3 linked regions of the Homo sapiens genome follow. The protein of the gene in region 2 purifies or fractionates together with the protein of the main gene of each other region. This does not show direct contact. Each region holds a gene or a part of one and is shown on either strand. Other genes may lie near its edges. The genes, in order: SNX25, GJA3 and PRMT2.

Region 1 (3,656 bases), on a different chromosome or scaffold from region 2:
GGCCTCCCAAAGTGCTGAGATTACAGGTGTGAGCAACCATCCCTGACCACAGTCAAATTCTGATTAGCATATTTACTTAAAATATCTTTGCTATATGATTTGTTGATAATGCGTATACAGTAATGCATTGCTTAACAACAGGGATGTGTCCGAAGAAATGTGTCATTAGACAATGTCATTGTGCAAATATCATAGAGTGTACTTACACACCTACATGGGATAGCCCACTACACATGTGGGCAATATGGTGTAACCTATTGCTCCTAGACTATAAACCTTATACCATATTACTGTACTGAATACTGTAGGCAATAGTAACACAATGATATTTGTGTATCTAAGTATAGAAAAGGTACAGTAAAAATATGGTATAAAAGATAAACAACAGTACACCTATATAGGACACTTACCATGAATGGAGCTTGCAGGACTGGATGTTGCTCTGAGTGAGTGGGGAGTGACTGTGAAGGCCTAGGACATGACTGTGCACCACTGCAGACTTCATAAACAGTGTACGCTTAGGCTACACTACATTTATTTAAAATTTTATTTTCTTCAATAAATTAACCTTAGCTTACTATAACTTTTTTTACTTTATGAACTTTTAATTTTTTTAAACTTTTTGACTCTTTTGTAATAACATTTATCATCATTATCAAGTATGCACTGTACATAATTGTATGTGCTGTATTTTTATACTATTGACAGTGCAATAGGTTTCTTTACACTAGCTTGACCTCATTAAATGGTAGAAAATTTTCAGCTTCATTATAATCTTATGGGGGCCACTGTCATATAGTCAGTCTGTTGTTGACCAAAATGTCATTATGTGGCGCATGACTGTACATAATTTTGTGAACTTGGAATATGTAAAAAGGAACTGTACCACAATATAATGTGATTACTAGAAAAAAGTTAACTATATCCAGGGAAATGCTTAGTCAGGATAAGAGAAACTTTCCCTATCTCAGTCTCAGACAAATAGCATTGCATTTGAGATGCAGTGATTATCTCATTTACTATCTCAGGATAAGCCAGCTGTGCCCATCAGCTATTATAACCAACCACAGAGAAGAGAGGAAGTTTCTAATCTCAAGTTACAAGGATGGCTTTGTAATAGTGTCATTGACTTTTTAACTTCCTCTCTGAGGTCTGTTTTAACCAGTTGGGGAGAATGTTGACTTTCATCCTTTGGCAGACTAAGCTTGTCAAAACGTATTGAGCCTTATAAAATAAGTAAAAGAAAAAAATCAGTGTTTTTTTGGTTGTTGTAATTTTGTGGTTTTTTGTTTTTTGAGATGGAGTCTCACTCTGTCGCCAAGGCTGGAGTGCAGTGGCGAGATCTCGGCTCACTGCAACCTCTGCCTCCCGGGTTCAAGCAATTCTCCTGCCTCAGTCTCCCGAGTAGCTAGGATTACAGACATGTGCCACCATGCATGGCTAATTTTTGTGTTTTTGGTAGAGATTGGGGTTTCACCATGTTAGCCAGGCTGGTCTCAAACTCCTGACCTCAAGTGATCCACCTGTCTCAGCCTCCCAAAGTGCTGGGATTACAGGTGTGAGCCACCACGCCCGGCCTTAATTTTGATAGATTTGTTAGCAACTTGAGTTCCAAATGACTTCCCTTCATGATTCTTTTACATTTCACTTATTTATTAAAATGACAACTTGATTATAGCCATGGATGATAACATATTTGGAGGGATAGGCAGCTGTATGTGTGCATGTGTGTACATTTTTGAATTGTTTATTGTATTATATAGATATTCCCCTGTTTGACTACTTGAAAAATGTTTCCCAAATGTAGTCTCAGTTATGTGATACATAAACAGTTCCCTTAAAGAAGAATACCTTTCTCAGTGGCTATTTCTTCTTCTTCCTGTAGTCTTGAAGCCGGTAGTGGAGTTACTGAGTAATCCAGATTACATTAACCAAATGCTGCTTGCCCAGCTGGCGTACAGAGAGCAAATGAATGAGCATCACAAGAGAGCCTACACCTATGCCCCCTCTTACGAGGACTTCATCAAGCTCATTAACAGCAACTCTGATGTGGAGTTCTTGAAGCAACTAAGGTATTTGGTCTTCAATTATAGCACAGCAACAGCTACTGATTATCATCCCCTGCCTAGTTAGGTTAAAAAAAAAAAAAAGTAGTTGTCAGGGAAGCAGAAATAAAACAAGTCTATAAATCTTACTATTTAGTGACAGCTAAATTTATCCAGCGTCTCCTTAGCAGTGTAATTAGAATGAATTTTTTTAAAGTATTAGGTTTTTCAAATACAGTTGACTCGAACAATTTGGGGCACCCACGCTCCCCACCGCCCCCACCCCCAGTCAAAAATCACATATAACATTTGACTTGGGCCAAGCACAGTGGCTCAAAAGTGCTGTAATCCCAGCACTTTGGGAGGCTGAGGTGGGCGGATCACTTGAGGTCAGGAGTTCAAGACCAGCGCGGCCAACATGGTGAAACCGCATCTCTACTAAAAATACAAAAATCAGCTGGGTGTGGTGGCACATGCCTGTAGTCCCAGCTACTCAGGAGGCTGAGGTATGAGAATCACTTGAACCTGGGAGGTGGAGGTTGCAGTGAGCTGAGATCACACCACTGCACTCCAGCCTGGGTGACAGAGTGAGACTCCTTCTAAAAAAAAAAAAAAAATTGACTCTCCAAATACTTAACTACTAAATACCTTACTGTTGACCAAAGCCTTACTAATAACATAAACAGTTGATTAGCACGTATCTTGTGTGTTATATGTGTTATATACTGTATTCTTACAATAAAGTAAGCTGGAGAAAAGAAAATATTATGAAAACCAGAAAGAGAAAATATATTTACTATGCAGTAAGTGGAAGTAGATCATCATAAAGGTCTTCATCCTCATCTCTTCACATGGAAGTATGCTGAGGAGGAAGAGAATGAGGAGGGGTTTGTCTTACTGTCTCAGGTGGCAGAGGCAGAACAAAATCCTGTGTAAGTGGACTCATGCAGTTCAAACCTATGTTTTTCAAGAGTCAGCTGTAATGAGGCTATAATAGACTGAAAGCTCTTCAGATGTCGGGAGTACCTGCTTAGCTGCTCAGATGACTACCTTAGAAAAGCACTGGAAGGACATCAGAAGGAGAAGATGTGTTTCAAATTACAGAGTAGAACATTGTGTTGGTTTTTGTTTGTCTTGGACAGTACAGAGGCTTGGGTTTGGGAATAAGAGGTTCTAGATTAATTATTTTGAGAAAACACATTTGAAAATACCATAGGAGTATCTTTTATAGGGGAGCACAGTGTCCCTTGTTATACCTGAGATATTTTAGGGGGTGTGTATTTTTGTGTATTTTTAATAGTATATACACATTTAGTATGATTATATAGTATTATCTAGTTTGTAAATTTTCTAGGCTTCTGTTTCTCTACCCTTCTTTTTAATGTTCCCAAATGATAATATAGGGGAAAGAAAGAAAACTCTTATATGTTCATTTTGCTTTTCATTAATAATTTTGGTAAAACCCTGATGGAAAAGTAAAATATTGGTTGAAATTGGGTGTTTGAATTAGTCGAGGTTTTTAAACTTGTGACATTTGCTTTTGAACTAGGGTTAACATTAAGATGACTCATGCTGTTTAATTTTCTGATTCGAATAAAGCACCATCTAAGG
Region 2 (3,305 bases):
CAGACACTTATATTATTTACACTGGAGAAAGCAAACAGGCTGCCCACAAAGAATGATTAGGAAGCTTGAAGTGTTTTATTCTGTACTTTTTAAAAGTGTAGATTGTCATAGATTCATCTGTATAAATAATTTTCCTGGCAACAGTAGTTCACTTTTCACTTCCCATTCAAAATCTTCAGAACTTCTATTTGAATGCACTTAAAACTTTCCCCTGCTTTTGTTTTATATAATACATTCTCATTATAATTAGGTGACTCATGAAATTAAAGAATTTCTTTTACAAGAAAGTTCAAAATCTTTAGTAAAGATGCTAGTAGCATGCATTAGGGCAAATTAGCACTGTCTTGGTCAGCAATCATTCTAACAGTATTTAAAGAAAGAAAAACACTATTTTTCTTTCATTTTTCCTGAAAGAAAGTGGGAGAAAATAGGCATAGCTGCACCATTCAAAGCACAAAATAATCATTTAGAAAATAAATACCTACGGCATACCCGACACACTTTTATGTCAATTTCCTCAACTGTTTAAAAATGGCCTCAGGCGTGGCTGCGTTTCCACCTGCCTTCTGCCAGCAACCTCTGGGGCCCTTGCCCACTGAGCCTGCCTCTGGAGGGCAACTGCTCTTTGTCACTTGTCATGAGGCCTGAAGCTTGATATCCTGGGCTTCACATGCAATTTCGGAAACTCAAATGACACTACATAGACTTGCTGTAAATCTTTTTTTAGTGCAGTTTGGCAAATATCCCAAATGAAATTCAACTCTAAGTTAAAAGTATCAAAGAGATAGAGCTAAGTGCTCTGGCCCAGAGCTAAGACCCTCTGGGCCGCCCAGAGGCTCTGGAGAGCTTAGGAATAGCAAACCCAATTGCCCAGGAGCTAAAGGGACTGCAGGATACCTGTTGCTTTACCACTACAGAACAGTTACCCCCAGAGACAGCCCTCAGCGACCAGATTTCTGGGCTGCTGTGAAGATCTTAAAGGCCCACAACCCTTGTCCCCGCCACCCCCAAACTCAGAAAGTGGGAGTTATCCCCACTGTAACTCACAGTGCTAAGAACAGCAAGCATTGAACACGGAAACCTGATCTCTCCTCCATCGTCCACCTCCTGGGACTCCAGTCGCTCCCACCTCCTGGGACTTTCAGGTTCTATCTGCTGGTGGGAAGTGCACTTTGGTTTTGGTTTCTAAGAAAAAGATCACTACACAGCTGTCTGGAGGCAGGCACCCGGGCACTAGATGGCCAAGTCCTCCGGTCTGGCCCGCCCGCTGCTGGCCCTGCTGGCCTTGCTGGCCCGACCTGGGTCTCCGAGGGGCAAGGGCGGCTGGTGCATCTGGGCCGCGGTGGTCACGGCCTGCTCCTCCTCCTCGGGGGTCCCTGCCAGGGCGCTCCCCTCCAGACTGCTGCCGCTCCCATCCAGCAGCAGGGGCGCCGCGCCCGCCTCAGCCTCGTGCGCGAGTGGCGGGGAGCTGCTGCCGACGGGGCTGGGGGCTGCAGGCGTGGACGCTGCCGGGTAAGCCTTGAGCGCCGGGGGCTGCCGCTCGGCCGCCTGGTTGGCCCAGTTCTGCTCAGTCATCAGCAGGTGGTGGTGGCCGTTGTAGAGCTTGGCGGACTGGCCCTTTCCGCGCGCCTCGGTCAGGGCTAGCAGTTTGAAGTCCGCGGCTGGTGGCGGGGCCCCGGGGTAGCCCACGGCGCGGGCCTGTCCCAGGGGCGCAGCGGTGTGCGCATAGTAGGGTGGGAACCCGATGGCAACGGCGGGCGGCCGGGAGCTGGGGGGCAGGGGCGGGGGATCGGCTGTCCCCAGCGGGGCCTCGGAGGCGTCCGGGCCGAGGCGGCTGGTCACGCCCTGCTTGAGCTTCTTCCAGCCCAGGTGGTAGATCTCCAGCATGTTGAGCAGCAGGGACGCGCAGGCCACCGCCAGCATGAAGATGATGAAGATGGTCTTCTCCGTGGGCCTGGAGATGAAGCAGTCCACCGTGTTGGGGCAGGGCCAGCGGTCGCAGCGGTAGAGCGGCTTCAGCTCGAAGCCGTACAGAAAGTACTGGCCGGCGATGAAGCCCACCTCGAACAGCGTCTTGAAGATGATGTTGAAGACGTAGGTCCGCAGCAGCGCCCCGGCCATGCGCACCCTGCCGCGGTCGTCCCGCGACGAGGGATTGTCCTGCGGTGGCTCCTTGGGGCTGGGGCTCTCTCTCTTCAGCTGCTCCTCCTCCTCCCTCTCTTTCTTCTTCTCTTCCATGCGCACGATGTGCAGCACGTGGCCCAGGTAGATGAGGGTGGGCGTGGACACGAAGATGATCTGCAGCGCCCAGAAGCGGATGTGGGAGATGGGGAAGGCCCTGTCGTAGCAGACGTTCTCGCAGCCCGGCTGCTGGGTGTTGCAGGTGAAGTCTGACTGCTCATCGCCCCACACGTCCTCCGCCGCGGCCCCCAGCACCAAGATGCGGAAGATGAACAGCACGGTCAGCCAAACCTTGCCGATGACCGTGGAGTGCTCCTGTGCATTTTCTAAGAGTCTTCCCAGAAAGCTCCAGTCGCCCATTGCTTCAGATTCCTAACCTGTAAGAGGAAAATGCTCATGAACACCGGGCTGCAACGGCTGAGTGCCGGGTCCGCACCCATGGGCGGCGGCAGCGGCCTGGATGGTACTGGGATGGGGCTGATGGGCAGCTTCTCCACAGGACAGGCATCGCAGCTCCCCAGGACCTGGACGAGCAGGCACTACACAAGTGCAAGCGTCCATGAGGAACCACAGGTTAAACTCTTCATTTCAGAGAGGAGGAAGCCAGAGCCAGAAGAGAAAATGCCCTCCTCTGGCCTCCAGACTGCTCAAGCCCTCTCCCTGAGGCTGACCCTACAGGAGCTCTGGGGCTCTGCGGCCCCTTAGGCCACTTCTGAATCATGACCTTTCTGTTCAGGTGGGATTAGAGCAACCTCTTCCCAAATTGCTGCCATCCCCATGCCCATGCCACCTTCAGAACTTCTGCCATGTTAATCTGATACCTCTTCTACTATTTGCTTTTTCTGTCTTCACATCAACTCTTTATGCTTAAATTTATCTCAACTAGGAAAGTTTACATTACTACTGTCAATGGAAAATCGGCACTAATACCTTCAATGGATGGTAGCTTTAAGAGTAAATATATTCCAACTCAGCCAGCTTTATTTTGGAAGTAAGGAAATAAAGACTTACTCCCCTTTTTTAAAAAAGAATAAATTCCTTGATGACAATGAAGTTGATACAGTCTATGGGATATTGCTTGCCAAAAGCTCTGGATGTAAGCTCTCTTGTTACAAAGAGGAAGA
Region 3 (3,656 bases), on a different chromosome or scaffold from region 2:
GGGAAGTTGGCTGAGCAATCCTCTAATATCTGATGCTCCCGATGCTGAGGTTGTGGGGAAGTGTGCACCGCCATGCCCTTTTTTTGGCAGTGTAAATTGGTAAAGCCTTTTGAAGGAAAATAGGGCAGAATAAGTCAAAGAGCATTAAAATTTTTTTGTTTTTCCAGAAGCAGCAAAGTTCTGAAGGAGACGCAAGTAAAGATACCACAGGTGTCCTAGATTGTCAACAGACCATTTAATCATTTTTGTTAACAAAGCAGGTGACAATTGAGCCCTAATTTGCGTTATCATTAGTTGTTACAGGATCTTGCTTGTTCTCCTGAGGCCACGCCACGATTTCCGAGAAGCAGGTTGCACACTCAGCAGTCTCCCACTAGCCAGTGGCACTGCAGGTGCAGGGGCTGCCTCCTGGACCTTTCAGGACGCTTTGCAAGGTCACTGAGGATCTCCATTGCACATTTGGTAGAATTAAAAGACTGCCAGACTCAGTCTTACTGTTGTTAGTGTATTCGTGCTGTCAATATGTGATGAGGACATATTATATTCCGTTATTCTCTTTAGCTCAAGGAAGAATAAAGAATTTGGACCAAAATTACAACCACATTATGACGAATTTTCTAAGCAAAAGAAACAAAGTAACTGCTGAGGTTAACAAAGATGTAATAATTCTCTTCACACAGCCTTGTACTGTTTTATTGACTGTATTATCACAAATCCTGAGCTTAACGAAAGTCTTTATAAGTCAGCTCATGAAAACAGGCACGTGGCCAGTAAGAATTTAATTTCATACCAATAACACTTCAGACTTCGGATGTATTTAAGGCTGTTTGCACATATTTATAGAATGTGTGGTGTAGATGATGGGACAGCTCCCCCTCAGCAAGACTCTGGCCTAAATGTATTTGCTTTATTTACACAACAAGAGGATAAGCGTAAACACGGGCACTTTCAGTTTGTGGCACTGAAGGACGATCTACACAGGGCACCCTGCAGAGGCCACAACCAAGGCCGCCTGGCTTCCCAGTGGGACAGGCCTAAGGGAGGACTTCTGGCCCCTTTGCTTGATGTTCATGTTTTATGCCTTGATATTTCTTTTTGGTTGCATTCCCTGGAGCTCATGTAGATCATTTTACTTTTCAGAGGTGCTAGTTCTGGTGCCCACACGCACACACACAAAACCATCAACTCTTCTGGATTCCTTGGTTTTAAAGCTTGCCTCATACAAAGTACAGAGACATCTTTTTCAGGAAACATTGCCACCACATGCTTGAAGGACCGCTTATGGCTACACTTAGACATCTCCAACCAAGGTCTCTTCACCTCCTTCTACAACAATGCACTTTGTCTGCACTGGGACAAAAAATGACAGCCTTTTTTCTTTTCTTGTTTTTTTTTTTTTTTGGCGTGGAGCATTTCCGAACTTTCACGTCATAAAAAATGCAGCATAGTTAATCAGCAGCTTGCACTTCTGAGGGCACATTCACCTCGGGGGAGGAGGAAGGAGGAGGAGCTGGTGGGTGCTGAGACTGCAGTGTCCTCCTTCCCAGCAGCTGGACCCAGAGACCAGGCACCAAATTTTTTTGATGAAATTATCCTAAGGAAATAATCAAATTTGTACAGAAATTTATGTTAAAAAATGTTCATGGCAGCACCGTTTAAAATGGGGAGAAAATTGGAAACAACAGAATTGTAGCAATACATATGATCATTAAAAATTATGTTTTAGAAAGATTTTTAACAGTCTTTGGAAAAAGTTGGTGACATGTTGCTAGTTTTTAAAAAAAGTACAGAGTATGTACAGTATGATTCCAATTTTGTGTTTAAAAATTAGACATAGTGGTAACCTAGCTTCAGTTCCAGATAAGATGGAGAAGGCATACTCCTTTCATGTCTCCCACTGAATGCAGCTATAAATCCTGGAGAGTAGACAGGGAGAAACTATTTGAGGACTCTGGAACAAAGACATAGTAGCAATCGACTGGTGAAGAAGACAAGAATTTGAAGTACGGTCAAGTATCTGTGGGCTCCACATCTGTAGATACAACCTACATGTATTGAAAATATCAGAAAATAAAAATAACAATACAACAATAAACATCAATACAAATAACACACCAATACAGTATAGCAGCTACTTACATAACACTGACATTGTATTAGGTAGAAGTAATCTAGAGATGATTTAAAGTCTGTCGGAGGATGTGTGTAGCCTGTATGTAAAAACCACGTTATTTTATATGGGGGACTTTAGCATCCAAGGATTTGAATATCCACGGGGGTCCTGGAACAAGTTCCCCATAGACACCAAGAAACAACTGTATTCCTGAAACAGTCTTGAGTTATCATTTTCTTTCTTCTCCCTCTATGTATGTACATAGAGTGTACATACATAGAGTGAGAAGCAAAGAAGGTCCATGAAATGGACCAATTCTTTTGAAAACTGCAAATTACCACAGTTCATCTAACATGAAATAGATAACCTGAATGGTCCAATAACTAGTAAAGATATTGAATTAATAGTTTAAAAACCTTCTGAAAGGTAAATCTCTACCCTAAATGATTTCACTGGTGAATTCTATCAACACATTTAATGAAGAAAAAACTCCAGTTCTAAACAACTTTCAGAAAAGAAGAGGGAACACTTCCTCACTCATTATATGAGGTAAGCATTGCCCTAATACCAAAACCAATGTTAACACAAAATATGAAACCTACAGACCAATAACCCTCATGAACATAAATGTAAAAATCCTCAAGAAAACATTAGCAAATTTAAACCAGCAGGATATAAAAGGAATAATAATACACCATAACAAAAAAAGAAACTATCCTTGGAATGCAAGGCTGGTTCAATATTTGAAAATCAATCAGTGTAATCTACCATATTAACAGTCTGAAGAAGAAAAATCATGATTATATCAATACAGAAAAAAATTGACAAAATTCAACATCAGTTCATGATAAAATTCTCAGCAAACTAGAAAGGGAAGGAAATTTAACATGACATAGGACATCTACAAAAAAACCTACAGAAAATCCTAAGGAGTCTATGAGAAAATTTCCTAAAACTAGTAAGTGAGTTTAACAAGATCACAGAGTGCAAGGTCATCATACAGAAGTCATTTTTATATCTTAGCAATGTACAATTAGAAATTAAAGAATATCACAGTAGCTTCAAAAATATGAAAGGCTTAGAAATCTAACAAAATGTGATCTGGATGCTGAAAATGATGAGATGATAATGAAAGAAACCCCAGAAAACCTAAATAAATGGAGAGATAAGAAGGCTCAACCTAGTAAAGACGTATGTTCTTTTTAAATTGATCTGTAGACTTAATAAAATTCCAATTAGAATCCAAGCAGGATTTGTTCTTATAGATAAGCTCATTATGAAATGTATATGGAATGTAAAGGAACTAGTGCTATGGTTTGTCCCCACCAAATCTCATGTTGAAATTTGATCCTCAGTGTGGTGGTGTTGGGAGGTGGGGCCTAGTGGGAGGTGTTTGGGTCATGGGTGTGGATCCCTCATGAATAGATGAATGCCCTTCCTCGTGGGTAGATAAGTGAGTTCTAGCTCTTTCAGGTCCCAACAAGAGCTGGTTGTGAAAAAGAGCCTGGCACGCCCACTTGCCTCTGCTCCCACCCTGTGGTCT

What was found.
Region 1: the proteins of GJA3 (region 2) and SNX25 purify together in Homo sapiens (affinity purification with mass spectrometry; one large-scale study listed by BioGRID and IntAct). This does not show direct contact.
Region 3: the proteins of GJA3 (region 2) and PRMT2 purify together in Homo sapiens (affinity purification with mass spectrometry; one large-scale study listed by BioGRID and IntAct). This does not show direct contact.

Annotation. Positions count from the first base shown.
Region 1 is NC_000004.12:185,265,084-185,268,739, forward strand, and holds part of SNX25 (sorting nexin-25), read left to right. Parts: intron 1-1,885; coding exon 1,886-2,072; intron 2,073-3,656. UniProt on the Homo sapiens protein: May be involved in several stages of intracellular trafficking.
Region 2 is NC_000013.11:20,140,748-20,144,052, forward strand, and holds part of GJA3 (gap junction alpha-3 protein), read right to left. Parts: intron 2,559-3,305; 5' UTR 2,542-2,558; coding exon 1,234-2,541; 3' UTR 1-1,233. UniProt on the Homo sapiens protein: Structural component of lens fiber gap junctions. Gap junctions are dodecameric channels that connect the cytoplasm of adjoining cells. They are formed by the docking of two hexameric hemichannels, one from each cell membrane.
Region 3 is NC_000021.9:46,652,551-46,656,206, forward strand, and holds part of PRMT2 (protein arginine N-methyltransferase 2), read left to right. Parts: exon of another isoform or gene 1-294; coding exon of another isoform or gene 295-504; exon of another isoform or gene 505-2,547; intron 2,548-3,656. UniProt on the Homo sapiens protein: Arginine methyltransferase that methylates the guanidino nitrogens of arginyl residues in proteins such as STAT3, FBL, histone H4. Acts as a coactivator (with NCOA2) of the androgen receptor (AR)-mediated transactivation.